Linked DNA regions of Homo sapiens. The protein of the gene in region 2 interacts with the protein of the main gene of each other region in a biochemical or structural test. Each region holds a gene or a part of one and is shown on either strand. Other genes may lie near its edges.

The links.
Region 1: the proteins of PTPN1 (region 2) and LTK form a complex in vitro, tested with the Homo sapiens proteins (one study listed by BioGRID and IntAct).
Region 3: of the proteins of PTPN1 (region 2) and CLK1, one has a biochemical effect on the other in vitro, tested with the Homo sapiens proteins (one study listed by IntAct).
Region 4: of the proteins of PTPN1 (region 2) and CAPN2, one has a biochemical effect on the other in vitro, tested with the Homo sapiens proteins (one study listed by IntAct).

The regions. Positions count from the first base shown.
Region 1 is NC_000015.10:41,509,855-41,517,910, forward strand, and holds the start of LTK (leukocyte tyrosine kinase receptor isoform 1 precursor), read right to left. Parts: upstream 3,974-8,056; 5' UTR 3,856-3,973; coding exon 3,813-3,855; intron 3,267-3,812; coding exon 3,123-3,266; intron 3,025-3,122; coding exon 2,853-3,024; intron 2,412-2,852; coding exon 2,261-2,411; intron 2,110-2,260; coding exon 1,963-2,109; intron 1,725-1,962; coding exon 1,568-1,724; intron 1,555-1,567; exon of another isoform or gene 1,493-1,554; coding exon 1,310-1,492; intron 1-1,309. Other genes in the region: RPAP1 (RNA polymerase II-associated protein 1), read right to left, coding at 7,688-7,837, 7,944-8,003. UniProt on the Homo sapiens protein: Receptor with a tyrosine-protein kinase activity. Following activation by ALKAL1 or ALKAL2 ligands at the cell surface, transduces an extracellular signal into an intracellular response.
Region 2 is NC_000020.11:50,512,849-50,520,821, reverse strand, and holds part of PTPN1 (tyrosine-protein phosphatase non-receptor type 1), read right to left. Parts: intron 1-7,973. UniProt on the Homo sapiens protein: Tyrosine-protein phosphatase which acts as a regulator of endoplasmic reticulum unfolded protein response. Mediates dephosphorylation of EIF2AK3/PERK; inactivating the protein kinase activity of EIF2AK3/PERK.
Region 3 is NC_000002.12:200,854,108-200,862,080, forward strand, and holds part of CLK1 (dual specificity protein kinase CLK1), read right to left. Parts: intron 7,756-7,973; coding exon 7,595-7,755; intron 7,360-7,594; coding exon 7,131-7,359; exon of another isoform or gene 6,109-7,130; coding exon 6,018-6,108; exon of another isoform or gene 5,640-6,017; coding exon 5,573-5,639; intron 3,983-5,572; coding exon 3,866-3,982; intron 3,778-3,865; coding exon 3,611-3,777; intron 2,879-3,610; coding exon 2,784-2,878; intron 2,705-2,783; coding exon 2,575-2,704; intron 980-2,574; coding exon 897-979; intron 589-896; coding exon 509-588; intron 1-508. UniProt on the Homo sapiens protein: Dual specificity kinase acting on both serine/threonine and tyrosine-containing substrates.
Region 4 is NC_000001.11:223,714,987-223,722,959, forward strand, and holds part of CAPN2 (calpain-2 catalytic subunit), read left to right. Parts: intron 1-2,775; coding exon 2,776-2,845; intron 2,846-7,973. UniProt on the Homo sapiens protein: Calcium-regulated non-lysosomal thiol-protease which catalyzes limited proteolysis of substrates involved in cytoskeletal remodeling and signal transduction. Proteolytically cleaves MYOC at 'Arg-226'.

The DNA.
Region 1 (8,056 bases), on a different chromosome or scaffold from region 2:
ATCTAAAAAAAAAATTCATATATTTATTGTATACAGCATGATGTTTTGAAATATGTACACACTGTGCAATGGCTAATGCAAACCAATATATACACCACCTCACATGCTTATTTTCTGTGGTAAGAACACCTATAATCTACGCTCTTACCAATTTTCTTTTCTTTTTTTTTGAGACAGAGTCTTGCTCTGTCACCCAGGCTGGAGTGCAGTGGCACGATCTTGGCTCACTGCAACCTCCGCCTCCCGGGTTCAAGCGATTTTCCTGTCTCAGCTTCCCGAGTAGCTGGGACTACAGGCATATGCCACCACGCCCGGCTAATTTTTGTATTTTTAGTACAGATGGGGGTTTCACCATATTGGCCAGGCTGGCCTCAAACTCCTGACCTCAAGATCCACCCGCCTCCGCCGCCCAAAGTGTTGAGATTACAGGCGTGAGCCACCGCGCCCCGCCTCTCTTAGCGATTTTCAAGAATACATCGTCATTAACTACAGTCACCATGTAGTACAGTAGATTCTGGAAGGTATTCCTCCTATTTAACTGCCATTTTGCATTGTTTTGACCAGCATCTCCCCAACCTTCCCCCAACTCCCAGGATAATTTCCATTGTTTTTTTTTTAATCTTTGAGACAGAATTTCCCTCTTGTCGCCCAGGCTGAAGTGCAATGGAGTGATCTCGGCTCACTGCAACCTCCGCCTCCCAGGTTCAAGCAATTCTCCTGCCTCAGCCTCCAGAGTAGCTGGGATTACAGGCTCCCGCCACCACGCCCGGCTAATTTTTGTATTTTTAGTACAGACAGGGTTTCACAGGTTGGCCAGACTGGTCTCGAACTGGTGACCTCAGGTGATCCACCTGCCTTGGCCTCCCAGAGTGCTAGAATTACAGGCGTGAGCCACCAGGCCCAGCTGATAATGTGCATTTCGAACAACTTAGGTTGTGGGGATATTACCTGTTCCTGGACCACACTTTGAGAACCACTGACTTAACCCAATCCTGCCTTTCTGCCCCTTTGCTCAGCTTGCTCACTCGGCCAGCTCTAAGTTCTGAAGACTGCTGCAGAACAAGGCAGGGACCTGCTGTGATGGGAAAGATCCTGGATTAAACGGAAATCTAGGGAGTCCTGTCTGCATGCTGATTTGCAGTGTATTTGACCTCCTTTTCTAAGAGCTCCTGCTTTTTGTTTGGAGCTGCTGAGCAGGGCTTAATGCCTCTCCCACACCTATCCTCCCGAGGGCTCCGGCCTGTACTTAGGTTCTAACATCACCTCACCCTCGGGCCTGCTCAGCTGCCCTCTCCAACGGTGCACCTACCCCTGTAGCCGCCGCCGCCTCCGCCCGCAGTGCAGGCCCCGCCGCCGCCCCCGAAGCCGCCGGCCGCGGCCCAGCCAAGGGTCGCCCAAGCCTCGGAGCAGCCCTGGCCGCCCTCCGCCCCCTCCTGCAGTGAGCGGCCGGCCTGCGGAGAGGGAGCCCGCGACGTCCAGCCGCCCCCACCACCTGCAGAGCGACAGCAGGAAGGTTGGCAGCCACACGGGGAGCACGCCCGCCTCTCCCCGCGGCCCGCGCCCTCACCTGCCGCCCCGCCTCTCCCGCCGCTCCCGGGCGCCTCCGAGCGGTTCTCCAGTTTCTCGGGGGAGGCCTGAGTCCGGCCTCGGTCCCGCGGCCTCAGGTAGGCCCGACCGCCGCCTCCGGCCGCCACCAGCAACGGTTCCAGCTCGCCAGCGCGCACCTGTGGGGCCAGCGGCGTGTTCCAGGAAGCGCCCTCCAGCTGTCCAGGGGCACTGCCACTGGGAGAGGGCTCCCGCCCAGGGGGCCTGGATAAGGGCAGGGGCCCCCAGCCCAGCCCAGGCCAGCCCAGCCCAGCGCAGGGATAGGGGGACCCCAAGGGACGGACGGAGAGCCGGTGCGTGAGCGCCCCTGGGGAGAGGATTGGGACCCCAACGCTGAGCGCCGAAGGGAGCACGTACCCGGAAAACGTAGGTGGCGCCCCCGCCACCCCCGCCACCTCCCGCCCAGCGCCGCGACCCCGGGACCCCTTCGCTCCCATCCATCGCCGCGTGCTCTTCAACGGCTCGAGACTCCCCGAGGCAGACGAGCTGGCTCTCCGGGCTACCCTGCGGGCAGCGGGGGAGGGAATCGGCGGGGCCCGGGAGCCTCCCCTCGCTGTGCTGGTGACCCGGCACCGAGGAAAGCACGCTCCCCCGGCCCCCAGGCAGCCCTCGCCCCCGGCGCCGGCGCCGCCCCATCCCCACTGGCTGCGCTCACTCCGGGACAGGCGTCCTCTCCCTGCTGCCCCACCAGGATGTACAGCGACTCCCCGAGACCGAGGGAGAAGATTGCTGAGACGAAGACGCCATGCGCCCGCGACAGGTGGTTCTTGGCGCCTTTGCCGCCCGCGGCTCCGTAGGCTGAGATCCTGCGGGGAACGGACGGTGAGTCCCCGGCCTTCGGTGCTCAGGCCGGCCGCTCCGGGCAGAAGTTGGCGACAGAGGAGGCTCCAGAATTATTTTTTATCTGAGGGACTTGGAGGCTGCAATCGACTCTGACGGGATGGGAAGGGTAGGTTTGCACACCGAAAAATCAGATATTACACTTATTTCAGGAGGGTTCGTGGAAATGTGGGGAGGCTCAAGCACCCCTTGGCGCCGCCCTGGTTGGGGGCCTTCCGCTCGGTGTAAGAGGTTCCGGGTAAGGGCTAACTCGGTGGCGACTACTGCCACCTTGAAGGGCACTCAAGGTGGACCTCCCCGCGGAATAGTCCAAGACGCAAGTCGGTGCGCACGTGGACTTCGTTACCCTGAGGGTGAAACCTCCAACTAGCAGGTCACTGTCCACCCTACCTCCGCCGTGCACTTACAGATACTGGCCAGGGCCCGGCACGCGCCACAGCTGCACGCCTCTCAGCTGCCCGGCGGCCCCCACGGTCACCACCACGCTGGTCCCCGCGTACGCCCCGTCACATTGTGTCTGTGTGGGCCCATGCCGGCCGCTGGCCCCGCAGGTAGAAAACAGCCAAGACCCCTCGGTGCCTGAGAGCAAGGAGCGAGGCAAGGGTCGTCGAGCCCCTGGCTGGGCCAGAGGGGTCTGGTATGGTGAGCGAAAGAGGAAGGAGGCGTCTAAAGCTCACCCGGAGAATTCAGCGGGGAGGCTGGCTCCAAGATACTAGGCGGGGCGCTGACTTTCGGGTCCCGGGGGCTGGGACTTGCCAGCGGCAGGGGCGAGGACCGCAGAAAAGTCTCCTGGGACCCCGGGCTAGAGCAGAGAATGGCGCCTGAAAGGTGTTGGGAGAAGGCGCAGGACGTTAAGGCGGGTGGAAATAGGATATGAAAGAAAGAGAGAACCCCGCAACAGCTGCCCTTGCGGTCGCGGCCACACCCGTCACCCGGCCCAGCCGCGCTCTCAGCCTGGAAGCCACTACCCGACTCCGGTCGCAGAAGCCCCGCGGGTGCGCGCTGATAGGTCTGCCAGTTTCTCTCCTCGAGCGCCTTTCCCAGTGAATAACTTAGGGGCCGCAATGAATTTGGTCCTGCAGCCTCCCCAATGCTTTCCTCAACTTAGATTGGTGGCCCCGCCCCAAGGCGGTGCTGAGACCCCAAAGAATGTTCCTCCTTCCCAAGCTGCGTGATCCAGACTCTGGGATTCGCACGCACTTGGCGCTTCTCGGCCCGCACTCCAGAAGCACGGACCGGAGAAATTTGGCTGTGAGAGTTCGAGGCCTCTGGAGGAACCACTGACACCTGGCCTGTTGACCGGCCACCCCCAAGCCTAGGAAAGTGCCTCAGGCTGGACGGTCCCCTGACCGCCAGATAGCACTTACCCGCGGCTCCGAACCACACCAGCAGCTGTCCCCAGCAGCCCATCCCTGTTGGGTCCACCCGGCAACAAAAGCCCTTGCGGTCGCGGCCACACCCCTGTCAACCTAAAGTTGACAGCTCATTTTGCCACGGCAGCCCTGGCCACCACTTACAGGGGTGTGCTGCCGCTGGCGAGACACTCCCCGGACCTAAAGCTGGTCTGGCCACGCCCACCTCAGACCCCAGGACGCCAGAGGAGGAAAGGGAGGGGCGTGTGGGCAGCGAGGTCCCTACGCTTCCGGGAGGAGCCTTAAGGAGTCCCCACCCAGGGGTTCTAGTTTCCAGCCGTCAGATGTGCCGCAGCCTGCTGGGAGCTCCGGTAGGTTTGAGGCCGGAGAGGAGGTGCCCCACGCTTAAAGTGGGAGCCACACCTCGGACACCAGGTGGGGGCTTCCAGGTTCCTGAGGACAGGAGCAGTGGAGTGTGCACTTCATTTGTGGCAGTGGTGGTGGTGGTGAGTGTGTGGCATGCGTCACCACACGTGGGAAGTACTCTAAACTGCTCCAAGTAAGGCCTCATTACCTGCCATTACTTGTGCCTTTTAGTGGTGCCTTTGTGACTGCAAGGCTGAACCTCATTGCTACTCCCAGAAACCTGGATCTCTGTGTTTGCCTCATATAATTCCGTTGCCTGTGTTACCCCTGTGCACAGCCTCTCACTGTGATGGGGTGAAAGACTGGACCAGACGTTAGAAGATCCGAGTGTTTTTAGTAGCACTGAAGGTCAATAGATGATAGGTAGGTAGACCGATCGATCGATTGATCTTGAGCACTAGTACTGGCACCTCTGGTCAATGGGTGATGTAGCACAGGCCACAACTGCCCTGAGAGTTTCCCCACCACCTGCAAAATCATATGAAGGGAAATTGCTCTGTAAGGTACCCTACAAATGTGGGAGCCACTCCCTTCAGGTAGTTTTGTGTCTTGAGTCTTCGATCATTTGCTTAAATGATCATTTGCCGGGTGCGGTGGTTCATGCCTGTAATCCTAGCACTTTGGGAGGCTGAGGCGGGCAGATCACCTGAGGTCAGGAGTTCGAGACTAGCTAGACCATCATGGCAAAATCCCGTCTCTACTAAAAATACAAAATCAGACACACGTGGTAGCGCACGCCTGTAATCCCAGCTACTCTGGAGGCTGAGGCAGGAGAATGGCTTGAACCTGGGAGGCAGAGGTTGCAGAGACGAGATCGCACCATTGCACTCCAGCCTGGGCAACAAGAGCAAAGCCCCATCTCAAAAAAAAAAAAAAAAAAAAAATCCTAACTTGAAAGTCTGAGACCTATGTTTAATACAAAATACTTCAAAAGAGAAGTTATAGTAGTTAGCTACTTGGTAAAGTCTGAGTATAATTCAAGGTGTAAACAGAACAGTGATTTTGTAAAAAGTCTGGTCTCAGCCAGGCGTGGTGGCTTACACCTGTAATCCCAGCACTTTGGGAGGCCAAGGGGACGGTGGGGGTGGGGTGGATCACAAGGTCAGGAGTTCAAGACCAGCCTGGCTAAGATGGTGAAACCCCGTCTCTACTAAAAATACAAAAATTAGCCGTGCGTGGTGGCAGGTGCCTGTAATCCCAGCTACTTGGGAGGCTGAGGCAGAGAATTGCTTGAACCTGGAAGGCAGAGGTTGCAGTGAGCCGAGATTGCACCACTACACTCCAGCCTGGGTGACAGAGTGAGACTCCATCTCAAAAAAAACAAAAAACAAAAAAACCCTGGTCTCTATGCCCTACTTAACACTAGATATCACACTATGAGATCACAGAATTTACCTTGCAAAGTCTCTTTAAGCCACTGCTCTTCAAATTGTGGTTGTGTGGTTTGTTCTGAACATCAGCATCAGTATTACCTGGGAACTTGTTAGAAATGCAGATTCTTGGGTTTCACCCCAGATGTACTGAATCAGCAGCTTCTGGTGGTAGGACCCAGTGATCTGTTTTAAAATATCCTCCAGATGATTTTTGTCACAAAGTTTGAGAATCATTGGTATTTGCTGATACAGTAGTTGCTTAATAAAACCTATTGGGGCCACATGCTGTGGCTCACACTTATAATCCCAGCACTTTAGGAGGCTGAGGTGGGCGGATTGCCTGAGCTTAGGAGTCTGAGACCACCCTGGGCAACATGGCAAAACACCGCTTCTAATAAAAATACAAAAAACTAGCCCGGTGTGGTGGTGCATGCCTGTAGCCCCTGCTACTCGGGAGGCTGAGGCATGAGAATCACTTGAGCCTCAGAAACGGAGGTTGCAGTGAGCCAAGATCATGCCACTACACTCTGGCTTGGGCTACAGAGTAAGACTCTGTCTCAAAAAAAAAAAAGAAAAAAAGGCTGGGCCCAGTGGCTCATGCCTGTAATACCAGCACTTTTGAAGGCTGAGGCGGGCGGATCATGAGGTCAGGAGTTCGAGTTCAAGACCAGCCTGGCCAACATGGCAAAACCCCATCTCTACTAAAAATACAAAAATTAGCCAGGCGTGGTGGCACGCGCCTGTAATCCCAGCTACTTGGGAGGCTGAGGCAGGAGAATGGCTTGAACTAGGGAGGGGGAGGTTGTGGTGAGCTGAGATTGCCCCACTGCACTCCAGCCTGGGCAACAGAGCAAGACTTCGTGTCAAAAAAAAAAAAAAAAAAACCCAAAAAAACCTATTGGATAATTCTGTGTTCAGCAGCTCCATTTATGAAGACTGGGTTCTCTCTACCTACTGACAGGGCTAGGCCTTGGCACACTGCTCTGACTCTGGTTACTTGCAAACACAATAAGTAATCCACACAGCAAAAGACAGTCTAAGAAAGCCTAAAGTTTAGAATTCAGACCAAAGAACAATGTAGAAACTACCAAAATAGGCCAAGTGTAGCGGCTCATGCCTGTAATCTTAGCACTTTGGGAGTCTGAGGTGGGTGGATTGCTTGAGCTCAGGAATTCAAGACCAACCTGGGCAACATGGTGAAACTCCGTCTCTACAAATACAAAAAATTAGCCAGGCGTGGTGGCACTTGCCTGTGGTCCCAGCCACTCAGGAGGCTGAGGTGGGAGAATGGCTTGAGCCCAGGAGGTCGAGGCTGCAGTGAGCTATGATCACGCCACTGCACTCCAGCCTGGGCAACAGAGCAAGACCCTGTCTCAGAAATAGATAGATAGATAGATAGATAGATAGATAGATAGATAGATAGACAGACCGACCGACCGACAGACAGACAGACATGGGGTCTCACTATGTTGGCTAGGCTGGAATTGAATTCCTGGAATCAAGTGATCATCCTGCCTCAGCCTCCCAAGTAGTTGGGACTACAGGTGTGTACCACTGTGCCTGGCAGGCCCCACATTCTTGTTGTCTCCAGATGTGGACAAAGTTTTTACCTCCCACTTATGATTCTTCCCCATCTCTCTCACAGCAGTCCTGCTCCTCACCTGGGATAACCCACCCCCAGATACTAACCCTGAACTAACATGGCTGAAATCAGTCCAGATCAAATTTCCAGGAGATAAAAAACATTTATTTTAATGCACAACTATAGCATTCATATGCCTCAGCCCAGGGCAGGGGTTGGGAGTTAGGTAAGAAGGGATGCATTTAGTTTGCCCTGTCCCCAAAGAGCGGGTAAATAGCTAAGCCACTCTTCACTCCCAGTACAGACCTTCAGAAGCCCCAGATATCAGGATGTAATGGTAGGGCTCACTGCTCTAAAACAGCTCAAACAACCTGCTCCCAGGAAGGCAAGCCTTCTGCTCCTTGGTCTCCTGCCTACCATTAGGACACAATGTTCTTCGTCTGGCCAGACATCTGTTGAAAGGCTGGATACAGGACAACGTACCCATCTTTCCATCTATATCAACTATCCTAGGTCTCTGATACCCCATTTTGGAGCACTGTTGAAGTCAGTCTCTGGAGGTAGTGCTGACGCAGAGGGGGCAACTGAGAATAGAGCTCAAAGCCCTCTGGGAGCGTGGAATTGGGAAGCTTATAGTGCAGGAGGTGCTGCCGGAGACCCTGCAGAAAGGAAAGAAAACTTATGAAGTGGGTAATGAGATCCTGTTGTGGTCTCTGTCCCCCAAGATCCTCTAATATCCCACCCTCCTAATGGCCCTGACCCTACCTCATCTGCCAGCAGCCATGTTTTCTGCAGCATACTCCTGCGGGCAGCTTTGACCTCATCCTAGAAGCAGAACAGGGAGAGGTGGCACTGAGCCGAGGGCTGGTACCCACCAC
Region 2 (7,973 bases):
GGCAGAGTCAGAACCCAAACCCAAGTCTTCTTCTTCCTGAGTCGTCTTCTTCCATGACCTCACATGTCCCCTCCTGTGAGTGCACATGCTCAGGGTGGCTGCTTCAGGGGAGCAGGGCAGCTTGAGACTAAAGCTCTGAAACACAACTGTTCTGTGTGAAACTAACCAGTACTGGAGACAGATACAGGCACCTACCCTTAGGAGCAAAATGTTCTATCAAGCAAGGGCACAGGCTGGGGAAGGTTTCCTATACACAGCCCAGCAAAGCCTTGCTTCAGTACATTGCAGGCGTGGTCATAATCTTTTACAAATCCTCTAATATCAACTGTGCCTTTTTAACCACTAGCTTGGAACAAGAATTTCATACCTGTATGAAAGAATATAATTTACTTGCTGGAAAAGTAGAAGTGTCACAAAGCAAAGAAATCACTTAATTTTTTTTTTTTTTTTGAGACAGAGTTTCACTCTTGTCCCCCAGGCTGTAGTGCAATGGTATGATCTCGGCTCAATGCAACCTCCGCCTCCCAGATTCAAGCGATTCTCCTGCCTCAGCCTCCTGAGTAGCTGGGATTACAGGCATGTACCACCACGCTCGGCTAATTTTGTATTTTTAGTAGAGACAGGGTTTCACCATGTTGGTCAGGCTGGTCCTGAACTCCGGACCTCAAGTGATCCACCCACCTCGGCCTCCCAAAGTGCTGGGATTACAGGCGTGAGCCACCATGCCCGGCCGGAATCAAAGATTTTTAAATACTGTCACTATGCTTCCAACTGTCCAACTTCCAAAGTACTGAGAAAATATTTTTTGAAATGTAGCCAAGTATAGAATATAGACTGTGTCCTACATTCAAAAGTTGTCTTTCTAGAAAGCATGTTTTAATGGCAAAGGATACAAAGCAAGCTGTAAAAAGAGACTAAAATTAGCTCAAACCACAAATAACCTAACATACTTATCACTTCCTTATGATCAACCTACAAAAATCAAACTTTAAAGGCACTTACAAAACTAAAGGTGGGAGGCCAACTGCACCCTTTAACTTCGCTATACCTTTCCTCCTTCTAACATGGACCCTGGCACATAAACACTGCCAAACGATGACACTGTGTTAACGTGAAGGCAAGCACCAGGGAAACTACGGGAGCACAGTTTTGCCCTGTAAATAAAACAGCATGTACCATGCAGTTCTTAAGTGGTTAGAAGGGTAACTACCTCCTCAAACTGAAGATGGGAAATGCAGATGAAGGCCCACACCCATCTTCAGCTGCATTTCACAGACAGCTAAGGACATACCACGCTCCCACTTCAAACAAAATATTCTTCCATCTTCTAAAGCCATCTATTTCCTACTTTCAAAAGCAACATCTTCCAAATCTATTGGGAAACCAAAAGTTTGTTACCATTCGAGTAGTGGAACAAGTTGCAAAATGAGGTTTAGTTGACAAATATGTATTCATGGGTAAAAAAAAGGCACTGGGTTTGTTAAACTACATCTACTTTTTCAGTGATTCTCTCTCTGAGTGTATTAACTATGTCTGATAAGTTTTGTGATAAATTTTTTGGAGAAACTTCAAGCTCACAAAGGATGAAAACAAGTGGTTAAGGATGAGTACAGAACCTACCAATACCACTGTGCACACTCCAATACTGTTACTCAAACTTTCAAAAGCATTTTCATTAGCAGGTAGAGAAATAGGGGCAAGTAGCAGACCTGGGTAGTTATTTGTGGTGTGAACAGACCAAACAAAATACTGATAATGGCACTAATATTCCTAAGATTTATTCAAGAAAAACTGTCAGTAAGACATGAAGGAATATTTAGAAATGCTCAGAAATGACACCATGATAGGTACATAAAGGGCCCATTGAAACCCAGCATTCTAGGGATGTGGATTCTCAAGGAATATTCAAGAGCAACCTTTAGGTGTGGCTAAACCAGGTTGTATTCTGGGGACTGCTCCAAAAATTTGGTTTTATGCTTGTATAAACCTGATGTAGCTTAATGTAACTTTCTGATCTTGGCCCCATTCTGCCTCACCCCACCTCGGAGCATGATCCTTAACACTATGGCAACAGGGAGGTGGCGTCCAGGTAGTAGAGAACAATAAGAGTAATGCTCTTAATTCAAAAGTGCTGTCAAGATACAGTTCAGTTCAGAGTAAAAACAACAAAGCAAAACAATGACAACAACAACAACAAACCAAAAAATGACATATTCTCTCCCTGCCCCGAAAAAAAAATTCACTGGGTACCTTCTTAGAGGCCTCTTTTCTCTGTGCAAAAGTTAGCCACAAAAATATTTATGACTCAGTGAAGGCGTATTTTCCCTTTATCCTTACAGAAGCAAACTAAGCCCTGACTATTTGAAAAGTGAAACAGTAGTTAACAGCGACAAATGTTCAAACATCAAGGAGAGTTAAAGCTAATTTACCATGTTATGCTAAATGCAGTTTGCTTATTTGTTCTCTTGAGTGAAGTTATATTCAGAAGTGACTTCATCCTTAGACATTTTTAAGTAACTCACGTTCTTAAGAGAACTCTATTTGGAATAATTACTTGATGTTCACTTTCCTGTAAGAAATTCGCAATAGTGTACAATCCTGTAACCGGGGCCCATCTGGATAAAAATTAGCTAAGCTGTTTGCTGTAATGTAACGTAGTGACTTTTAAGTAAGATTCTGCAAAAGGAAGAGAAGTGCCAATAAAAGATCCATTAAGAAAGGAAAAAAGTCGAAAAACGTTTCTTAACAGAGACAAGGGAAGAGTTTTCCTTTTCTAATCACTAAGAAATTTTTAAAAATTATTTTGAAAGCCTAGTTTTGCTATGCTCATCTTATCTTTGCAAGTGATGTTGCTCACCCACAAAAGCCACAAACACAGCCGAGGCTTCCTTCTTCATCTGTAAAAGTAAAATATACCTCAGTCTCTAGGAAGAAACATCTGAAAAGTAAAGAGAAGGAGACAGGGACACAAGCCTACTTGGGACCCAAAACTTTACTTCAAGTGGTTAATCCTCAAGAAGGATTTAGAATTTCCCAGCACTAGATTCAGAGTAGTAAAGAATACGTTTATTTCCCAGAGAAAATGCAGACCTTAAGTGTCCCTTTGCCATGTTTACTCTGAGTCCATATTACAGAGCTGACTTCAGAGCACTAATTCTATCTAATTACCATAGGGTATCCATAAAACCTTACTGCCTTAGTAAAACCATAAGCACTCAGTAAATCGAACGATGTCATACGTTTTTCTCTTAAAAAAAGGGCTGGGCCGGGCACAGTGGCTCACACCTGTAATCCCAACACTTTGGGAGCCTGAGGCAGACAGATGGCTTAAGCCCAGGAGTTCAAGACCAGCCTGGGCAACACAGCAAAATCCCATCTCTACTCCAAAAAAATACAAAAATTAGCTGGGCGTGATGGCACATGCCTGTAGTCTCAGCTACTTGGGAGCCTGAGGTGGGAGGATCACTTGAGCCCAGGAGGTGGAGGTTGCAGTGAGCCAAGATTGTGCCACTGCACTCCAGCCTGGACGACACAGCAAGACCCCATCTCAAAAAAAATATTAAAAAAATAAACTTTAAAAGGACTGAAAATCATTTATAAGTACTTGGTATTATTTTATTTGTAGTAGTGTGACTTGTACCAAAGCCCAGAGATCAATAGATTTGATGGCTACAGTTTTCTTTGGCTGTTTCAGGGCAGGAGGGAATCTTCCATGTGAAATGGTCTTATTTTCAGTTTTCATACAATCAAAATTTACAAGCTGTCAGCAAGATACTCATGATTATGTCAAGCTGCTTTGAAAAAGGAGAGGGCAGCAGCTATTAAACTCTAAAGACCATTTCTACACAAAGTAAAGCATTATTTCTAAAATGCTGGAGACTTAGGTACTTTCTTCTCAAATATGGCAGATGTGTAAACTATCATATTATTCAAATGAAACTTAGACCAGATGTAGGTTTCTTCCTAAAATTACAACATAAAGGGCAACTATTCTTTGCATACCTAGTTAGGGTTGAAGCTTTCGTAAATTCTCAAGAATCAGTTCCTCTATCTTTTACAGGAAAAGCCACCCAATTGCTACTTGAGAGAAAAACTGCAAAAGCATAGCGTACGTGTCAGGGCTACTCATTTTCCACATTACCAAGTCAAATGAACTCTATTTATCAAAAACATTTCATGCCCCTCGGGAAAAAACACCCCATTCTTTTGAGTTGTTAACTATACTCACAAAGCTCCTATAAACTTTTGAGCCTAATAGTACCCAACCACACCTTACAAAACTGAGTAACTGCTGCAGTTTTTACAAGGATTATTCAGGAACATTAAATTGTATTTGTGAGTACATTAAGGATTTTTATTACTTGACCTGAACTTAATGATCAGTTAGTCCAGGATCATTTTTACAAGGGAGAAACCAAAACCCAAAGAAAGTAAGGGACTCACTCAGCACTGTTAGTATGACAGCTGAGACTGCAACTATACCCAGACACAGGGGACACTAGAAAAAGCAAAACATGAAACTACTCTCTTGCCCCTAAGGGTGGTCTGATCAAAGGCCAAAGAATGTCATTACCATTTATAGTTTGAAAAAAAAAATCAAAGACTTGGTAACAGTCGTTATTTTATGGAGAACTATATTTTATATCCCAAAATCAAAAAGTATTTTATGAACCAACCACATGCAAAGGCCCGCTAGGCTTGTGAGAACCAGTCAGGAGGGATGAGGGAAGAGGAATTCAACAATTCTTAGAGAGACAAACATATTACCTCCAAGTTGCCTGTAAAGTTCACCGTAGGCCAAGCACAAATTTATTGTTATATTTAAAGCTTCTGTGAAACAAATCAGTGGTATCAGCTTCTACTGGCTAAGAATGCCAGCCTTTCTTCCAAAGCCACTGCAGCAGGCAATACTAAATTACCTCATTAGGCCATGACTCAAAATGTGGTGGGGGCCTTCTCCCAGAGTGACCTCTACTATTGGTACTAATGTGGGCTAATCTATTTGTTTCCATCATTGCCCCCCTAGAGTGGGAGCCAGGAACATGTTTTGTACATCTTTATACCATCAGGCTAGCAAAGTACTGACCATCAATTCAATCCCAACTCTTGTTAGGTACCTACTCTGTGCCAGGAGCAGAGGACTTCAAGATGAATGAGAAAGATACAACAGGTGGCCTCAGGAAGCTTGGGCTCCATTGGAGATAGACCTGGGATATAAAGTAGCAGCTACAGCTGGGCACAGTGTCTCATACCTATAATCCCAGCACTCTGGGAGGCCAAGGCAGGAGGATCACTTGAGCCCAGGAGTTTGAGACCAGCCTGGGCAATATAGTGAGACCTTGACTTTATAAAAATTTAAAAAAAAAATGTTTGTAAAGACGCAGCTACAATGACAGCAGGGCTTTAGAAGAGATATGTGCCAGCTTGTATGAAAACACACAGGTGACGGAACAAAACTCTGGTGCAAGGAAGCACACATTCGAGCTGGAAGATGCAAGCTAGATTGAACGGGAGAGGCATCCTCAACAAAGTGCTCAGCAATGGTATAGAGGAATGAAGGGCGAGGATGAGTTTGGAGAACGCTGCCCTTTCTTGTCTGGCTAGAATGGAAGCCACATAGGAGGGAAGGACTGGAAGCTGGCTGCCATGCTAAAGAGGAGTTTGGACTTTACAAGTGTTATGAAAGAATCAGAAGTAGTTGCAGAGGAGTGAGAGACTCAGATCTGGTTTTAGAACAATGAATTACTCTAGTGATGATGGGACCATATTAACGGGTAACCGGCTTCACTCATTTCTGCAGTGTGAAACTAGAAACCATTGCAGGCTCATAAGCAACATCTGAGAACCTAGACTACTAGTGTGGTGGAAAGGATGCCATAGTGACCAACCAGTGAAATGTGGCAGAGGGAATCACCAACTACTCCAAAGTCCCCAGCCCTCCTGGATACTCAAAATGTGAACATGGAATGGCTGGTGCCAAACTACATCATCTGGGAACAATGACCCAGCTAGAATTCCAATTTTCCTGAATATGGGCAGCATAAAGTAACATGCCCAGCCGATTTGCCAGTATTAGTTGTTACCAGAAACAAATCAGCATAAACACTGTAGGGAGGAATGCCAAATTGTGCAAAATATATATAGGCTCAGGCAGGCCTCAGAAAAAGTACCTGCTCACGCCTGCAATCCCAACTTCAGGAGGCCAAGGTGGGAGGATCGCTTGAAGCCAGGAGTTCAAGACCAACCTGGGCAACACAGCAAAACCCCATTTCTATTTAAAAGAAAGAAAGAAAGAAAAAGCAGTGCTAGGAACAGAAATTGCCAAAAGGATTCTGTAATCTACAAGATCACAAGACAGTTTTCTTTAACAAAGAGAAAAGGGAAAGAATCACACAACAAAAGGCCGTTATTTCAGTAGCTAAGTCAAAAAACCTCCACAGGAAATTTCTTATTCATTTCCACTGTGAAATTCAGTACACATTCAATTACATTATTCAATACCAGGTATTTTAATAGGTTTTGAGGAGCTATTCAAGATAAAATGCAAAATGGAGGAGAAGTAACGGCAGATAACTTGCAGCTAAGAAACAGCGGCATTACCATTATCCCCCAGCTGACTTTTTAGAACCACTGGTTGGTTTACTTACTTCCAAAAACACCAAAGTATTCCTATAAATATGCCAGTGATGTCAAATAACAATAGCAAAAAGTTCTTTCCTTCACTATTTCTACTTGTGCTCCCAGTTAATCTAATATCAGTCCAGACAATTACAAAGGCATTTACACCATTTCCAAAGTACTGATCAGACACCTAAATTTAGTTCACTCAAACCAGGGCTAAACAAGAACATTTAGATCTAATGGGTCACTCAAGATGACTAGAACTTCCCAGTCTCTCCATGTCATTTCCGTTAGTCTTTTTTTTTTTAAGTGAAGTGAGTCATAGTGTATAGATCTTTCTCCTTTGCATAAAATAGTTTTTTTTCCTCTGAAGAAAATAGTATTTAAATAAACATTATTGGCAAATTTTAATATTCATCTTTTTGGAATATAACAACATAAGCTGTATATCAGTAAGGAATTTTAGTGAACTATTGTTACAACATGGTTTTAACCTAGTCAGGCATTAGATTGTATTTCATAATGAAAACAGCTATAAAAACAAATGTCAATTGGAAGAGTGGCCCATTTTACAAAGCCTGCCTCTAACATGAATAAATCTTGCCTTCATGTCACAAGGTATTATTGCAGTCCCCTTTATCTGAAACAATCAAATCATTCACAATGAAATATAGTGAGTGGTGTCAGAGAATCAAAGAATTTACAGACGAGAAAACAAGCAAAACACCGGACCCAACCCCTCTTAAACTACAGATGGAGGGGAGCACATGAGCTATTCTTTTCATTCACTCAACCCTCTCTCCTCTCATTCTAGCTCAGTAAAATCAATCTCTTTTCCTCATCTGGGCTCATTCTCTCCTCTTAGACAGCTAGGCCCAATCAAGCAACCGGATGATTTGAAAGTGTTTAAATGCTAGAAAACAATGTTTAAAGCCATCTATATACACTATCAAAGCTGACTTTTTATAGACCTAGATGCTTATTAGCATCTATGCTATTCATTAGCATTAAAGATTAAAAATACGGTTATGCTCACTTTATCAAACTGACCTAGCAAAGAATCTCTGCCTAAAAAGTTTGTTTTCCAAGCTGCCACATTCCTCAGCACTCAAAAGTCCTCTTCACTCTTTGTTCTTTTCCCAATAGTTTTCAAGTTTTTACATCTTTTTGTTCTAATCAGAAAATAAGTTAGAATAACTGACCTGCTTACCAAGTTGTAAGCAAAAATTACATTATTCTCTGATCACAATAGGCTAGGCAAGCTCAAAGTATGACTTTGTATAAGGCTGCCCTCATTTCAACATGCTATAAAGTATTAATTTTTTTAAACTTCCATTTTCTATCAATTGTAA
Region 3 (7,973 bases), on a different chromosome or scaffold from region 2:
CCATGGGATAGAAATGTTACCTGCTTTGCACCAAGGTAATCTACTATTTAACTGAAAAAATATTAGTTTGACTTCATTATTTATAAAGTCCTAATCAGCGCCTGAGACTTGGTAGAGTGAAAATTTAAAAAAAAAAATTAAGTTCTGGCCAGGTGCGGTGGCTCACGCCTGTAATCTCAGCACTTTGGGAGGCCGAGGTGGGCGGATCACAAGGTCAGGAGATCGAGACCATCCTGGCTAACATGGTGAAACCTTGTCTCTACTAAAAATACAAAAAAATTAGGCGGGCGTGGTGGCGAGTGCCTGTAGTCCCAGCTACTCGGGAGGCTGAGACAGGAAAATGGCGTGAACCCAGGAGGGAGAGCTTGCATTGAGCCGAGGTCACGCCACTGCACTCCAGCCTGGGCAACAGAGCAAGACTCCATCTCAAAAAAAAAAAAAAAATTAAGTTCTAATCAGCAGATGTGATCAAATGATACTAAGGATGTCACTAACTCTTAAAACGTACCTGGTTTTCTGTATCATATGTTTTGGTAGAGGTCCAAGAATCCTTTCCATCATTGCTAAATGCTCCTTACTATCGTGTGTCTAGAAATAAAATAAAAACAGACTTGGGGAAGATGACCACCAAAACAGACACAGTTAAAGCTGACAGCAAAAAAACTAACATTAAGGCTTGCAGAACAAACTCGCCAATGATTCCCTACATGGACACGGATAATTGCTTATATACTGAAAGATGTTTTAAATAAAACAATTATGAAAGAAATATGAATTAGTTTATTTATGCTTATCTACAATTAATAGTCTATAATGGGGGAAGCAAAAGTATTTATTCATATAAACAGGCACCTTTCTTGTGCAAAGCAAGGTTGAAATAGATCATTGTCACTTACTGGAAATACGGTAAACCCAAGATAGTATTCAATAAGAATGCATCCTATGCTCCAGACATCACATGGTTGGGACCACCCTAGGGCTGCAAAGCAAAGCAAAATTTAAGGAAAAAAAATACTCAATGTTTGTTAAAGAAATTAAAAAGTTAGTTAACACTAATACTTTAAAAAAAAAAACACATGTAATGTAGGCTGGGCACAGTGGCTCACACCTGTAATCCCAGCACTTTGGGAGGCCAAGATGGGAGAACTGCTTGAGCTCAGGAGTTCAAGACCAGCCTGGGCAACACAGCGAGATCCCACCTCTATTAAGATATATATATATCTGAATTGGCCGGGCACAGTGGCTCACGCTACAGGCATAATCCCAGCCCTTTGGGAGGCTGAGGCAGGTGGAACACGAGGGCAGGAGATCAAGACCATCCTGACTACACGGTGAAACTCCGTCTCTACTAAAAATACAAAAACAAAATTAGCCAGGCATGGTGGCAGGCACCTGTAGTCCCAGCTACTCAGGAGGCTGAGGTGGGACAATGGAGTGAACCCCATAGGCGGAGCTTGCGGTGAGCCGAGATCGCGCCACTGCACTCTAGCCTGGGTGACAGAGCAAGACTCCGCCCCCCCCCCAAAAAATTATATATATACACATATATATGCAATGTGATGTTTGAGCTGGAAGATCCTAAAGCAATCACTTAATCCAAGGTTAAATACAATATATATGGCCGGGCGCAGTGGCTTATGCCTGTAATCCCAGCACTTTGCAAAGCCAAGGCAGGCAGATTGCTCCAGGTCAGCAGTTTGAGACCAGCCTGCCAACATGGTAAAAACCCCATCTCTACCAAAAATAAGAAAATTAACCGGGTGTGGTGGTGGGTGCCTATAATCCCAGCTACTCAGGAGGCTGAGGCAGGAGAATTGCTTGAACCCAGGAGGCAGAAGTTGCAGTGAGCCAAGATTGCACCACTGCACTCCAGCCTGGGCGACAGAGTAAGTCTCCGTCTAAAAAATAAATAAATGATAAAAATAAATAAATTATATAGTGTTATATATAGTCTGGAATAAAATAGGCATTAAACAATTTTCTGAGATGGAGTCTCGCTCTGTCGCCCAGGCCGGAGTGCAGTGGCGCAATCTTGGCTCACTGCAACCTCCGCCTCCCGGTGTTCAAGCAATTCTGCCTCAGCCTCCTGAGTAGCTGGAACTACTGACGTGTACCACCACACCCAGCTAATTTTTTGTATTTTTAGTAGAGATGGGGTTTCACCATATTAGCCAGGATGGTCTCGATTTCCTGACCATGTGGTCTGCCCGCCTTGGCCTCCCAAAGTGCTGGGATTACAGATGTGAGCCACCGCGCCCCACCCTTGGCCTCCCAAAGTGCTGAGATTACAGATGTGAGCCACCGCGCCCCACCTGGCATTAAACAATTACATTTAAAAACCCTACCACATATTACAAATGTGAAAACAATTCCAGAAAGGTTAAGCCACTTGCTCAAATTCCCAGAGCTAATTATCTGGTACAATTGAGAGCTTAAAATCCATAATGCACTTCATGATACTTATCCCTTAAAGAGAATATGATAAAGCCCCACAAGTAAGACCTAAAACTGCTAAAAAAATTTTAAGTCTCAATAAGGAAATACAAAGGTTCTCAAAGGACAATTAATACTCACCTAAAATAACTTCAGGTGCTCTATAATGTCTTGTAGATACCAATGTACTGTGATGTTCGTCATCATATGTTGCACTACCAAAGTCTACAACTTTAATATCTGGATTTATTAAGGTGCGTTCATCACGTTTCTGAAAATCATAAATGATGGTTAAGAAGGCATAAGCTATTAAGGCATAAGATACTTTATGAATATTTTGGAAGACTTACTATTTTGGGATTATACGCCTCTGTGTAGTCAGACTGCACAAATAAGATGTTTTCAGGCTTTAAGTCTGTGTGAGTCAACTTATTACTGTGCAAAACTGAGAATAAAGAGAAAGTTGCTGTAATCAGAAAACACCAAACCAAACCAAATCACAAAACCCCACAACAGGCCGGGTGCAGTGGCTCACGCCTGTAATCACCTGAGGTCAGGAGTTCGAGACCAGCCTGACCAATATGGTGAAACCCTGTCTCTACCAAAATTACAAAAATTGGCCGGGTGTGGTGGCGTGTGCCTGTAGTCCTAGCTACTCGGGAGGCTGAGGCAGGAGAATCACTTGAACTGGGGAGGCAGAGTTTGCAGTGAGTGAAGACTGCGCCACTGCACTTCAGCCTGAACAACAAAGCGAGACTCCATTTCAAAAAACAAAAAAACCCAACAAAAAACCTCTGATTCCTTTCCCAAAGAATGGTCAACATTCCAGTCTGCTAGAAAATCACCAGTAACTAAAACTTACTACCTCTTATGAAGCTTTCTTTTATGAGATATATCACGCCTTAATTTTTACCCAGCATTCGAAGTTACTATTTTTGCGCATCAGAAAAGTCTAAATCATAGTCTGCAACAAAGTACGTTGTTATATGGTGGATATCCTACTTGCTGAATGAAATGTACACTGCTGGATCAACAGCCTGTAATCAAATCTCTTCATACCTATTCTTCCTCCCCCTTTATTTTTAATCAAATAAAAATTGTACACACTTAGGATGCACATTTTGATATGTGGAATGGATAAAACCAGCAAATTAACGAAGATATACCAAGAACTTACAATTCACAGACTTGCATATCTGATATGCCATCTTTCTGATATGATCCAGTCGAAATGGTAGAAAACCATTTTCTTTAATGAAGTCGTAAGTACTAAGTCCCAATAGTTCAAAAACAATGCAAATGTGACCATGATGCTCAAACCATTCCAACATCTGGACACAGCGGCTACAAACACATGAAAAATAGCTAAGTATAGTTGCTCCTAATTTAAATATACCTGATACCACTTCCCAAGTTCTAATCTGATACTTACAAAGTACTGTTGGGGTCTGTTGTATTCAGATGTTCCAGAACTTGTATTTCTGAGCGAGCAGCTTCACAGTATCTATCCACATTTTTAACTATTTTTACTGCTACATGTCTACCTCCCCTGTTAGAAAGATGCATGCAAATTTAAGAATGACAGACATGATGCTCAATTCCAGGTATTACTGTCTTCAAACTGTACTACTACTCTGACCCACTGTATTTTTTTAATTTATGGTTTAGTGTTCAGTTCTGATTCTATTACATGCTGAATGACACAAATTTCTTTCATCAAACCACCACTCACATGAGTTATTTTTTGGTATTTCAGCTAAACAACTTCTTCCTATATGGTACCTGTCACTGTCAAACATTATCTCAAATGTTCTTTTAGTCCAGGTTGCCAAAAGAGTTAGGATACAGTGGGGAAAGAGTAAAGAGCTCTAGGACCGGGAGCAGTGGCTCTCACGCCTATAATCCCAGCACTTTGGGAGGCCGAGGGTAGTAAATCACTTGAGGTCAGAAGTTCGAGACCAGCCTGACCAACATGGTGAAACCCTATTTCTACCAAAAATATGAAAATTAGCCAGGCACGGTGGTGTGTGCCTGTAATCCCAGCTTCCTGGGAGGCTGAGGCAGGAGAATTACTTGAACTCGGAAGGTGGAGGTTGCAGTGAGCCAAGATTGCACCACTGCACTCCAGCCTGGGCGACAGACCAAGACTCCATCTCAGGGAAAAGAAAAATAAACAAAAAAAGAGCTCTAGCTCTCATGTCCTTACCAATCAATAGTAGGAAGCCCCCTCAAAAATGCTTTGCCATTCAGGAAGAGGAAGAACAATAACAACAACAACAACAACAACAACAAACAGGGAACTAAAAAAAAAGAGTAACGGAAAAAATTCTATACTATCTTAAGAAATTTCATGGCTGGAGCCAAGCGCTCATGCCTGTAATCCCAGCACTTTGGGAGGCTGAGGTGGGCAGGTCACCTGAGGTCAGGAGTTCGAGACCAGCCTGGCCAACATAGTCTCTACTAATACAAACAATACAATACTAATACAAACAATAGCTGGGCATGGTGGCGCGTGTCTGTAGTTCCAGCTACTCAGGAGGCTGAGGCAGAACAATCACCTGAACCCGGGAGGCAGAGGGTGCAGTGAGCTGAGATTGCGCCACTGCACTCCACCCTGGGTGACAGAGCGAGACTCTGTCTCGAGAAAAAAAAAAATTTCAATCAGTAGTTTGATAAACATACATAATTAAACTTGGGACACCAAGTTATCTCCAGCTATGTTATCAGAATGAATTACAGCACTTCCTAAAAATATAGATTCCTAGGTAACTACCCTGAAAAGGTCTGGGGTAGGCAAACCTCTCGAGGAGGATCTTAACATAAAACCAAGGCTGAGAACCACTAATATGGTGGGGGAAAAAAATATGGCCTAACAACAGTGTCCAGTTGAACAACAAAACAATACTTTCAAAACAATATAAAGTGTGTTCTCAGCCTAAAATTAGAAATTATACATACTATTAGTAGCTGTTTAAAAAATATGAAGGGGCAAGTACCTCTTAACTGGAAGTGTCTTACATCCAAGTAAAAAAGGGTATAAAGATATGTATCTAACTCATGGTCAGACCACTTTCTAAAGCTAAATCAATTACCTGTATTGCCAACTTCCCTAAAAGTAATCCCAACATGGGAAACTTACGCTTTATGATCGATGCACTCCACAACTTTTCCAAAAGCTCCTTCACCTAAAGTATCAACAATTTCATCTAAAAGAGAGAAATAAATCTCAGTCATATCAAGAAGTGGAAACAATGTACTTATCACAATAAATGCTATCAATGTAGATTATTCTAGTTGATGCTACAAATTTCCTTATCACTAGATATTTTATTGGTCAACACCATCAAAAAACATAATTATTAGGTCTAATTTCATTAATTTGATTACTGTTCTGGAAGTTCTATATAACAAACATTACATTTCTAAAGAAAGCAAAAATACAATCCCCCCCACCAAAAGAAATGGAAAAATAAAACAAAAACAAAAAAGAGAAAGAAAAAAAGATTTCCAAATCCCTGAAAGCTTAATCTATATATAGATTATGTTATCTGAAAAGTTAATAAGTGTTGAAAAATATTCTATACATCTTGCACTTAGTACGTCTCCACTCTGACAGATCAGGTGACCCTCCTCATCATCCTCTACACTCCTGGTTCTTTTCCTTCGGTGACTCTTCTGGAAACGTCAAGTGGGCGGCACCAAGATCATCCAGCCAATCAATATACCCGAGTGAATTCAGGGCAGAATACGAAATTCATTCAGCGGGGAGATATTCAGGCATTCAGATACACGCCAGGCCACAAACGGTTGGCAGGAGCAATTTCAAATTCAGTCCCCAGAAATTCACAGGGCACATAGTTTATGTTAACAGGAGAAAAACATGGCAAGGAACAGATTTTCAGATAAGATACTCAAAGTGGCAAGGCAACAAAACATAATACAATTGTTTTTCTTAAAAAAAAAAAATGCTTAGTTGTAGCATTCACTGAAACATAATTTTTTAGTTTCTAGTGTTCTAATTTAATGTTGCAAAATCGTATGATGTAATATTTACTTGTCAAAGTAGGCGGTGGCCAAATTAAGATTTCCTACCTAATCTAAGAAAACAAATATTATAACAGTAAATAAAATTAAAGTGCTAATTTTGGGGAAAAAAAGATTTGGCATACAAGAATAACACTACGGCATTTTTAATGTCATCTGAGCTGATCTCCATACTAATATATAACCCATAACAGTTCAAATCTGTTCTGGTTTGCTTAGTGAAAGAAGGGTTAGAAAACATGACTTGTTAGAACAAAGAAGCATACCTAATCCTAAATTATACAAAAATAAAATGCCCTGTTCTACTTTTGTGATTTCAATAGATCAAAACTAATCAGGTTTCTTGAAGTACCACAAAAAACCCTTTTAGAATATTTTGTAATAATTTTCAACTAATCTAAATTAAATCAATTAACTCCCATCATTTCACTGGAATGTCAATTAGGAGCCAACCAATAATTAAATTATAGAACTAAATGTGTACTTTATTTCCGGAATTTCCTATCCAATGCACAAACACAGAAAAAATCCTGCAGGTTAAAACTGAGATGATTTCATCTTAAAACTTTCTCAAATAATCAAACACAAAAATTCAAGTTTCCCTGTTCCACATGGGATATAAAATTTCCAAAATGTTTTAAAAACGTTCATACCCCATGTGAACGACGATGTGAAGTACTGTGGTGAATCCTGTGTTTGCTTTTATAACTACTTCTTCCACTTCTACCAGAAGACTTGCTACTATGGTTCTGATACCGGCTTTCATGGTCTCTTTGGCGATGTCCAGGTTCACATCCTTGAGTGTAGTCATTTCTGTACTCATCAATGTAGCGTCGACTATGATAATCTTTCTCATTTATAGACCTGCTTTCCAAATAATGGCTAGAGAAATAAAAATTATTTTCAATGTTTTATGCTAAGACCAAATATCCTCACATTCTCTTCAAGACAGCACCTAGACTCCCCCACAAGCAGCTTAATTTTACAAACATTACAAACCATCAAAATCTCTCATTGGAAACAAACGAATGGTAGTAATCAGGTACTTATTTTAAGTGATACTAGTTTTGTCTAGTAATGTATTGTTATATTCAGACATTTTAAGTATCCTCCTTACCTATCACACATTTTAGAGTGATTGTATTTGCAGCGCTTGTTCTCCTGGGCACTGCTATGTGATCTCTTCCTTCTTTTATGACTGCTGCTGCTCCTCCATTTTCCATAATCCCAATCCTTGTCATCCCAATCAGGACAGTAAGTTCTCTTTGAGTGTCTCATCTACATAAAAGGCAAGTTTTTCCTAGTTAAATTGTACCCCACACTGAGCTGTTTAAAATTCGTAATTACAAAGGTCCCCTCGTGACCTCGTTTTAAGACCAAAATTCAAGAATCATTATCACCCAATCTGAAATCACTGATAAATCCAATTACTGTGTTGTCCCATATTCTGCAGTTTGAACTTCATTCACAGGCACTCTGCATTAGCCATATCATGC
Region 4 (7,973 bases), on a different chromosome or scaffold from region 2:
GTTGAAGAAATTGAGGCTTGGGAAGGTTAAATACTTGCTCAGAGTCAAGTGGATATAGGGCATAGATCCAGGACTGTGTGTAGTCTGTGCATGTTGAGCCTACCCCTTATGGCTGCGCTCTCTGCCTCCTTCCTACCTTCTCAAATGCTGCTGAGGTCAGGCAAGGGGAGCACAGTTGTTTCCGCTGGATTTGAACACTAGCAAGTCATTGGTGAGTTTAGCAGAGCAATTTCAATGGAAAGGTGAGAGTAGAAGCCAGATTGTTGTAGACTCCAGAGTAAAGGAACTGGAAATTAAGAACATGATCAACTTATTTAAGAAGGACCCCCGGGAAGAGAGGAGAACTGATAGGTAGAGTAGGACCTGGACTTTGAGAGCCTGTGTTTTTTTCATATGAGAACAACTTGAATGTGTCATATGTTGAATCACCAGGAAGAAGGGATTAAAGATAAAGGCAGGGAGGGGGCAGTGAAACAGGATCCCTGAGGAAGTGAGAATACGGGTTGTGGGCAGGGGAGGGGAGCAGGTTAGCCTTGCAGCAGGAGGAGCTGCTCTTCCTCGGAGAGAGGATTTCACAACACTGGCAAGAGTGGCTCCAGTGCCTGGAGCGGGGATTAAAGCAGTAAGTCCAGTGGGGTCCAAGGGCCATGCAGGGGTACAGTGAGGAGAAAGCAGGTGTGATCCGGGTGGCACATCAGATCCTTCCAGCAACCAGTCTGTTAGGAGCAAGGGCAGATGTTGTGAGCCCCTATGTTTCCCCCAAGAAAATCAAACCTCTGAGAGGTTTCTCACTTGCTTATCTTCAGCTGGCCGAACTCAGCCTCAAACCCATATGTCCTGTCTCCAAGTTCAGTGACTGTTATCATCAACTTCTTCAACAGTAATAATAATAGATCACATTTATGGAGTGCTTGCCAGGGCATGTTTACATCATTATCTCATTTAACACTCAGAACAATCCTCTGTGGTGGGTGTTTTCATCGTTCCCATTTTGCAGGTGAAAAAACTGAGACTTCAAAAGGTTAAGTGACTTCCCAGGGTCCTACGACCTACATAATAAGTGGCAGAGCCAGGATTCAAACCTAGGTTATCAGAATAATGCAGCAAAGCCCAAACCCTCAGCCCCTTTTCACTGACTGGTAAGACCCATATTTAATTCGATGCCCTACATGCCGTGCACAAGTTTCAGTTTTCTGAAGCATCGCTTAGATGCTTAGGTGTTTAGCACCACTCTGAACTCTGACTTTTCTAGAGAGGCTGCTAAAGGCATTAGAAAGTTTCTGAAGTATAATGGAAAAACCCTGCTGGAGTAAGTGCCTGGCACACTCAGGATTATCAGTGTGATTCTTTATAATAAACAGGCTCCCAGCACCAAGCCCAATCTATTCCATCAGCTGGATAAGAGCTCTCTGGCAGGCCTTGGGCCAAGCTGGCTTCCTTTGCCTCAGCAGAAGAGCATTCTGATTCTCTCTGCCATCCCCAAAACTGACAGGAGCAGAGAGAAACAAGGCAGAGGCATGAAGGGAATGTCCTCTGCGGCAGATGGTGCTTCCGGAAGAGCTCCCACAATCTGAGCTAGAATGAACAGGGGCTAGATCCAAGTCTCATATAGGCATACTTCTGCTTGACAGAGTGGGCATGCCGAGGGCCGTTGGGTGGAGGCAGGCGTGTGCAACCCAAGCAGACATGAGACGCAGCTCCTTCAAGGCAAGGTTGCCTGAGCCCAGAGAGGCTCAAATTTGTGCCCCAACTTCCTCTGTGGCTTTTGGGTGGGGCTCTTCAGAATCGAAACACACTCAGAGGGCTGCTGAAAGGGCTAAGAAGTGTTCAAGGTTGGCTTCCATCAGGCTGCTCATGACAATGGCCCCTGAGGTTTTAACACCCTTGAACGCTTGGTACTAAATCAATTAGAGGCAGGGCAGGAGCAGAAAGAGTTGGCGCATTTGATCAGTAAGTTCCAATGCCAGTGCTGTCTATTATCTGTGAACTGTGTTAACTTTGGACACGTCACTTCACCTTTTTGAGCTGTTTCCTCGTCTGTAAAAGGGGGATAATACCCATTCCATGAGGTAAAGCTTTGAGCACAGTCTCTGATGTAAGCAGGTACAGAATATATAGATGCTGTAAGTTTCATGGTCCCATGGAAGAATTCAAAAGGGTTAGATCCCGCCTGCCCTCAAAAGGGTATGTGTTAGGAAATCAGAGTAATACCTAAGTAGTAAATTGCAGAGTCCAGAGACTCTGGGACTCAGACTTGAAGGGATGAGTGAGGATTGGACTAGGACGACTTCACGGAGGAGGTGACAATGAGCCTCAAGGTATGATGCAATATGGAAAAGGAGGGAAGAGAGTGGGAAAGGAAGGAATTTCATGCAAGCAAAACAACTTGCATGCAGTAACAGAGGAGAGAGGATGCTAACCCAGTGGATAGGGTGGCTCTAGAGTGTGGATGGTCTCCACGTCTGGCAGAAAAGGCTGGACTTGCTGCTGTGGCCCCCGGGACACAGCACAATGAAGGAGGCTCCAGGCAGTCCAGAGTGTGCAGGGTCCAATGCCTGCCCTTCTCAGACAGGACCACCCATCCACCCATCAGGGCCCAGGGAGCAGGGGTCAGAAGGACCTCATGACACAGAGTTCTGACTGTGATGACACACTTTCCCCAGAGGGGAGGGGAAGGGGAGAAGGGGTTAGAAGACCCCACTGAGAATGGAGGCATCCTAGCTGCAGAAGCACCTGGCTGGTAGGCTAACAGCACTTTGTGGGTCTCGTTCCCAGGAGATCTGCGCTGACCCCCAGTTTATCATTGGAGGAGCCACCCGCACAGACATCTGCCAAGGAGCCCTGGGTAAGTGATAGATTCAGAGCAAGCTGGGGGATCTTGTCTGTAAGGCTGTGGGTGGAAGAGATGAGGGACAACCTGTGGCTTCTCTCCCTTCCCAAGCAGCTTGGCAATTTCTATTTGCAGAGAAGCTCCATGGAATTTCTTGGCCCTAGCGGGCAATGATTCTACCCTCAGCCCCATGCTGGGGCACACAAATGAGGCCTCCTGTGTCCCCTGCACAGGGCTAGTTGCTGAGGTTACAGAGATGCTGCCACTAGGAGGACCAGGGGGCTTCTGGATGTCAGCCACCCCTTGGTATGCACCTCCTGGAGCCAGCATTACCAGTGGTTCACGAAATACACTCTGGGCAGAGGACTAGGTGGGAGGACTCCCCCAGACCAATGACAGCACTGAGACATCAGTTCTGTGAGGTTCAGGAACCAGGGAAGGTGACTCAGTGTAAAGAAAGAGGAAACTCTAATGCTCGCTGCTGAAGGAAGTTATAGTACCAGGGCATTCTCAGTGTTTGCAAGACAAGCTCACCATGGTATCACAGTTGTAACGCTCATTTAAGTAAAATGAACTGGAGTAGCTGAATTGTCCAAAACCTTGCTTTCTGGAGCCGAGTTCAGATTTGTTTCTGGAGATAGTCCTTGTTGAAGGTTTCAACCCACAGGGTTCTCCACCTTTAGTATGAAAATTCCCAAAGCTTCTAGGAAGTCCCAGCAATGGGGCCTGGCGCTGTTATCTAAGATTCTCATAGAATCTGCCCTCAATGTTCTTTTACTCATAATAAATGTGGGCCTATAATTACTAGAGCAGATTATTTGCTCTGATAAACCAAAAATCTATTTTCTGCCATCAGCCTCAGCTGGCTGGCTCCCCAGACAAGTTCATCAGTAGCAAAATCAGTCAACTAGAGTTGTACCTCCTGTCCTCACCCACCTAGCAGAGGTTCTGTTACTCATATACTCCTAATACCAGCTGATAACAGCTAATATGTATCTCTAAGGCACCGTGATTATTCCCATTTTATAGATGAGGATGCAGAGGTCTTCCTACAGCTAAAGTGGTGGCTGGTACCCCTGACCCCAGGGTATGTTTAATTCCTGAGCTAGACTCCCTAAGACGGGACCTGGAAAATTTTCTAGCCCTGAGGAATGTCAGAGCATCATGTGAATCATTAGGACAGACAGACTGTGAGGAAGAACATGAGCTGGGCGGGAAAGTTTGTCTGAGCTCAGGCTCTGCAGATTCCTGAGATGCCAGAGCACATTCTTACCTGCAGAAAACACTCCTTTCATTTCTTTTCTTCTCGCCCCACAAAAGACAGAAGATAGAGGTCCTTGAGCACCCAAGGCGGATCCTCCAGGAAAATCTATTCATTAGAGAAAATGGAATTGATGGAAACTTTGACCAACCCCGGGGGCTTTAGAGAATCCAGAAACAGCCGGCGCAGTGGCTCACATCTGTAATCCCAGCACTTTGGGAGGCCGAGGCAGGCAGATCACCTGAGGTCAGGAGTTAGAGACCAGCCTGGCCAACATGGTCAAACCCTGTCTCTACTAAAAATACAAAAAAATTAGCTGGACGTGGTGGTGGGTGCCTGTAATCCCAGCTACTCAGAAGGCTGAGGCAGGAGAATTGCTTGAACCCAGGAGGCAGAGGTTGCAGTGAGTAGAGATGGCACCACTGCACTTCAGCCGGGGTGACAGAGAGAGACCCCATCTCAAAAAAAAAGAGAGAGAATCCAGAAACAAACACAGCAACTGCCTAACATCTGCTTCAGAGTTTAACAACACCTTAAGTGCCAAAGTGTAAGCAACAAATACATGATTTAAGTCCTGTGTAAATACCACTGGGCCAATTGGAGAGGAGATAGCAAAGGTTAACATTCCTGGGAGAAATTTCCCTCCCAGGGGAATTATAAACCAGGTGAAATGTAAACCTTTTAAAAATTTCTTAGTAGCTAGTCTGTAATTTCTCAGGGGTGTGTGCGTGTGTGTGTGTGTGTGTGTGTGTGTGCGCGCGCGCGCGTATAATGCAGTATTGGTCATTTTGTTCTTTCAGCCTTTTATTTTGGAGGACTCTAGTTAGATCACAATCTGTGAAATGTGGTATACTGTACTCTCACCCTGATTCTGGCACCTGGCCAGCGGGTGCTGATGGGGCCTTGACCTTCACCAAATCCCAACAGCCTCACAAGCACCAGGAACAGAGGCCATGGCAGTGACACTCTGTGACATGGCCAGAGATATGAGCCTAGACTCAGCTCTGTTGGTAGTCCGAAGACTGGGCAAGTAATTACCTGGAACTTCCATCTGGAACCTCCGTCTCTTCCAAAAACGGAGAAGGAAGGAGGGTAAATGGAGTGACCTCAGACACCCCCTATGAGTTTGTATTCAGCTATTCTAAAGCCATTCCCGGGTTTCTAACCAGCTACTCCTCATTCCTTGTGCTAGAGGGTTAGAGCACTACAAGATCATCCTTATTTTCTCTCTTTCTCTCTTTTTTTTTTTTTTTTTTTGACAGGGTCTCACTCTGTTCCCCAGGGCTGGAGTGCACTGGCAGGATCTTGGCTCACTGCAGCCTTGGCCTCCTGGGCTCGAGTGATCCTCCCACCTCAGCCTTCTGAGTACCTGGGACTACAGGCACACGCCACCACACCTGGCTAATTTTTGTATTTTTTTGTATAGACCGGGTCTTGCCATGTTGCGCAGGCTGGTCTTGAACTTCTGAGCTCAAGTGATCCACCCACCTCGGCCTCCCAAAGTGCTGGGATTACAGGCGTGAGCCACTGCGCCCAGCCAAGATCATTCTTTTATTACACACAGAAGGAGTAATAACAGTACCCATCACCTGCATAACAGTATGCAATTCATAGAGCATTTTTTCACTACAGTATTTCATGTACTCATCCCAAATCTAAAGTAAATATTCTCACCTCACTGTACAGATAAAAAAAAACTGAGCCACAGAGACGGGAGAGTAAGTGTAAAGCCACACAGCTAGTAATTGCCAAAGGATTGAACCCTGGTCTGATTTTGAATCCTACACTCTTCCTAACCCATGCTCCCTCCAATTTGCCATAGTGCTGTGCTGAGGAACCATTCTCAGCAAAATTCATCTTCTCTACCTGCGCTTTCTACCCTGAGCCTTACTCAGTTCCCCCAGGGAACTTGGGCAGGTGACATTCTTAGACTTGTGCACTTTGCAACGCCCTGCCCTGTTTACTGTGCTGCCCAGCAATGTTTAATCCACAAACACCCACGCTCCTTCCCAGAAGGCTCAGCTTCCAAGCTTCACCAAAGTCATTTAAACCATGTTTACAGAGCTGCTCTCACCAAGAGCCATCTCCATTGCAGAATATAGTTGTGTAAGAATTGATTCAGCAGAGAAAAATCTGCCCTTCTGGAGGAAGGGCTGGAGACCCAGCTGGAGCCTCCACTGGCTGACCCTGCAGCTAAATATGGCTCTGAAATCGTGGGGTAATAACCACATTCTTACAGGTGCTTGCCACTTGAAATGGCTCCCAAGGACCCAGGAAACTCCAAGGCTGAGCTGCTCCTACCTCTGATGCTTTACTTTGCACTGGGTCACCACTGAGCTTTCCCCACAGCCTCACAGCTCACGGATGAAGGCAGCTACCCCAGCCAGGAAGGCATAGGTCACCTTGCAGGCCTCTGATTTCCTGGGGTAGAGCCCAAGGCTGCCAAGGCTGTTGAAACAGCACACCCCCATTTCATTGTAACCCAGCAAATGTTCCCTGGGCCCCTCAGAGGTGGGTCAACCTGCCTCCTTCTCAAGATGTCACATGGACCCCCAGAGCACCCACTGGGAGGTGTTTAGCTACAGGGTGCCCCACCCCACAGCCTAGCTCAGCAGAGAGTGGGGAAGGGACAAGACCAATGGGAAAGGCAAGCCAGATGGGGAATTTTCCAGTCCTGTTCCTTCTACCACTCATTAGCCACTTATTTGGACCCAACCCCTCTGAGCCTCAGTTTCTTCTTCTGTGAAATGGGAATAATGATAAGGATCCCTTCCCAGGGCTGTGGAGAAAAGTGAGATTTATACAGGCAAACACACTTGGCACACTATAGAATCCCAGACAAATTCAAGGGACCAGGATTATCATTACTGATTCCAGTTATGTGAAAAGTCCTTTTGCCAAATTGCCGAAGAAAAAGAGGATGGTGGAGGAAGAGAAAAGGAGGAGAAGAAAATAAGTTGGGTTGGAAACCAGATCCTTGTCCTTGAAAATTTCATAATCTAAGGGTGGAAATGCCAAAACGAGGAGAGACAAACTTGTGGCCTGTGTTTGGGTAACACACAGATTGAAACTCAGAAGGAGAAACATATGGGGAGAAAATGAACACAAAGGGGTCAGATGTGCATTCCTCAATTTTAAAAATTGAATATTTAAGTGTTTTAAATAATTTTTATTTCTTTTCCTTTCTTTCTTTTTCTTTCTTTCTTTTTTTTTTTTTTTTTTTTTTTTGAGACAGGGTCTTGCTCTGTTGCCCAGACTAAAGTGCAGTAACAAAACCATAGCTCACTGCAGCCTCGACCTCCTGGGCTCAAGCAATCCTCCCACCTCAGCCTTCCAAGTAGCCAGGACTACAGGCACGCACCACCTCACCTGGCTAATTTTTGTGTGTGTCTGTGTGGAGATGGGGTCTCACTGTGTTGCCCAGGCTGGTCTCAAGTTCCTGGGCTCAAGCAATCCTTCTGCCTTATCCTCCCAAGTGCTGGGATTACAGGTGCGAGTCACCACACCTGGCAAATAATTTTTAAATTATAAATTTAAAAATGCATTTTTATAATAGGTACCTTTAAAAATGTTAATAGACTTTTTTTTAAGAACAGTGTTAGGTTTATAGAAAAGCTGAGATGATAATACAGGAAGTTCCAGATACCTCATACCCAGTTTCCCCTATTATTAACATGTTACATCAGTGTGGTACACGTGTTATAATGAATCAGCATTGATGCAGTATTATTAAAGTCCATGCTTTATGCAGATTCTCTTAGTTTTCCCCTAAGGTTCTTTCTCTATTCCGGGATCCCATCCAGGACCCCACGTTTCATTTAGTTGCCAAGTCTCCTTCGGCTCCTCTGGGCTGTGACAGTCTCTCAAGTCTTTCCTTAATTT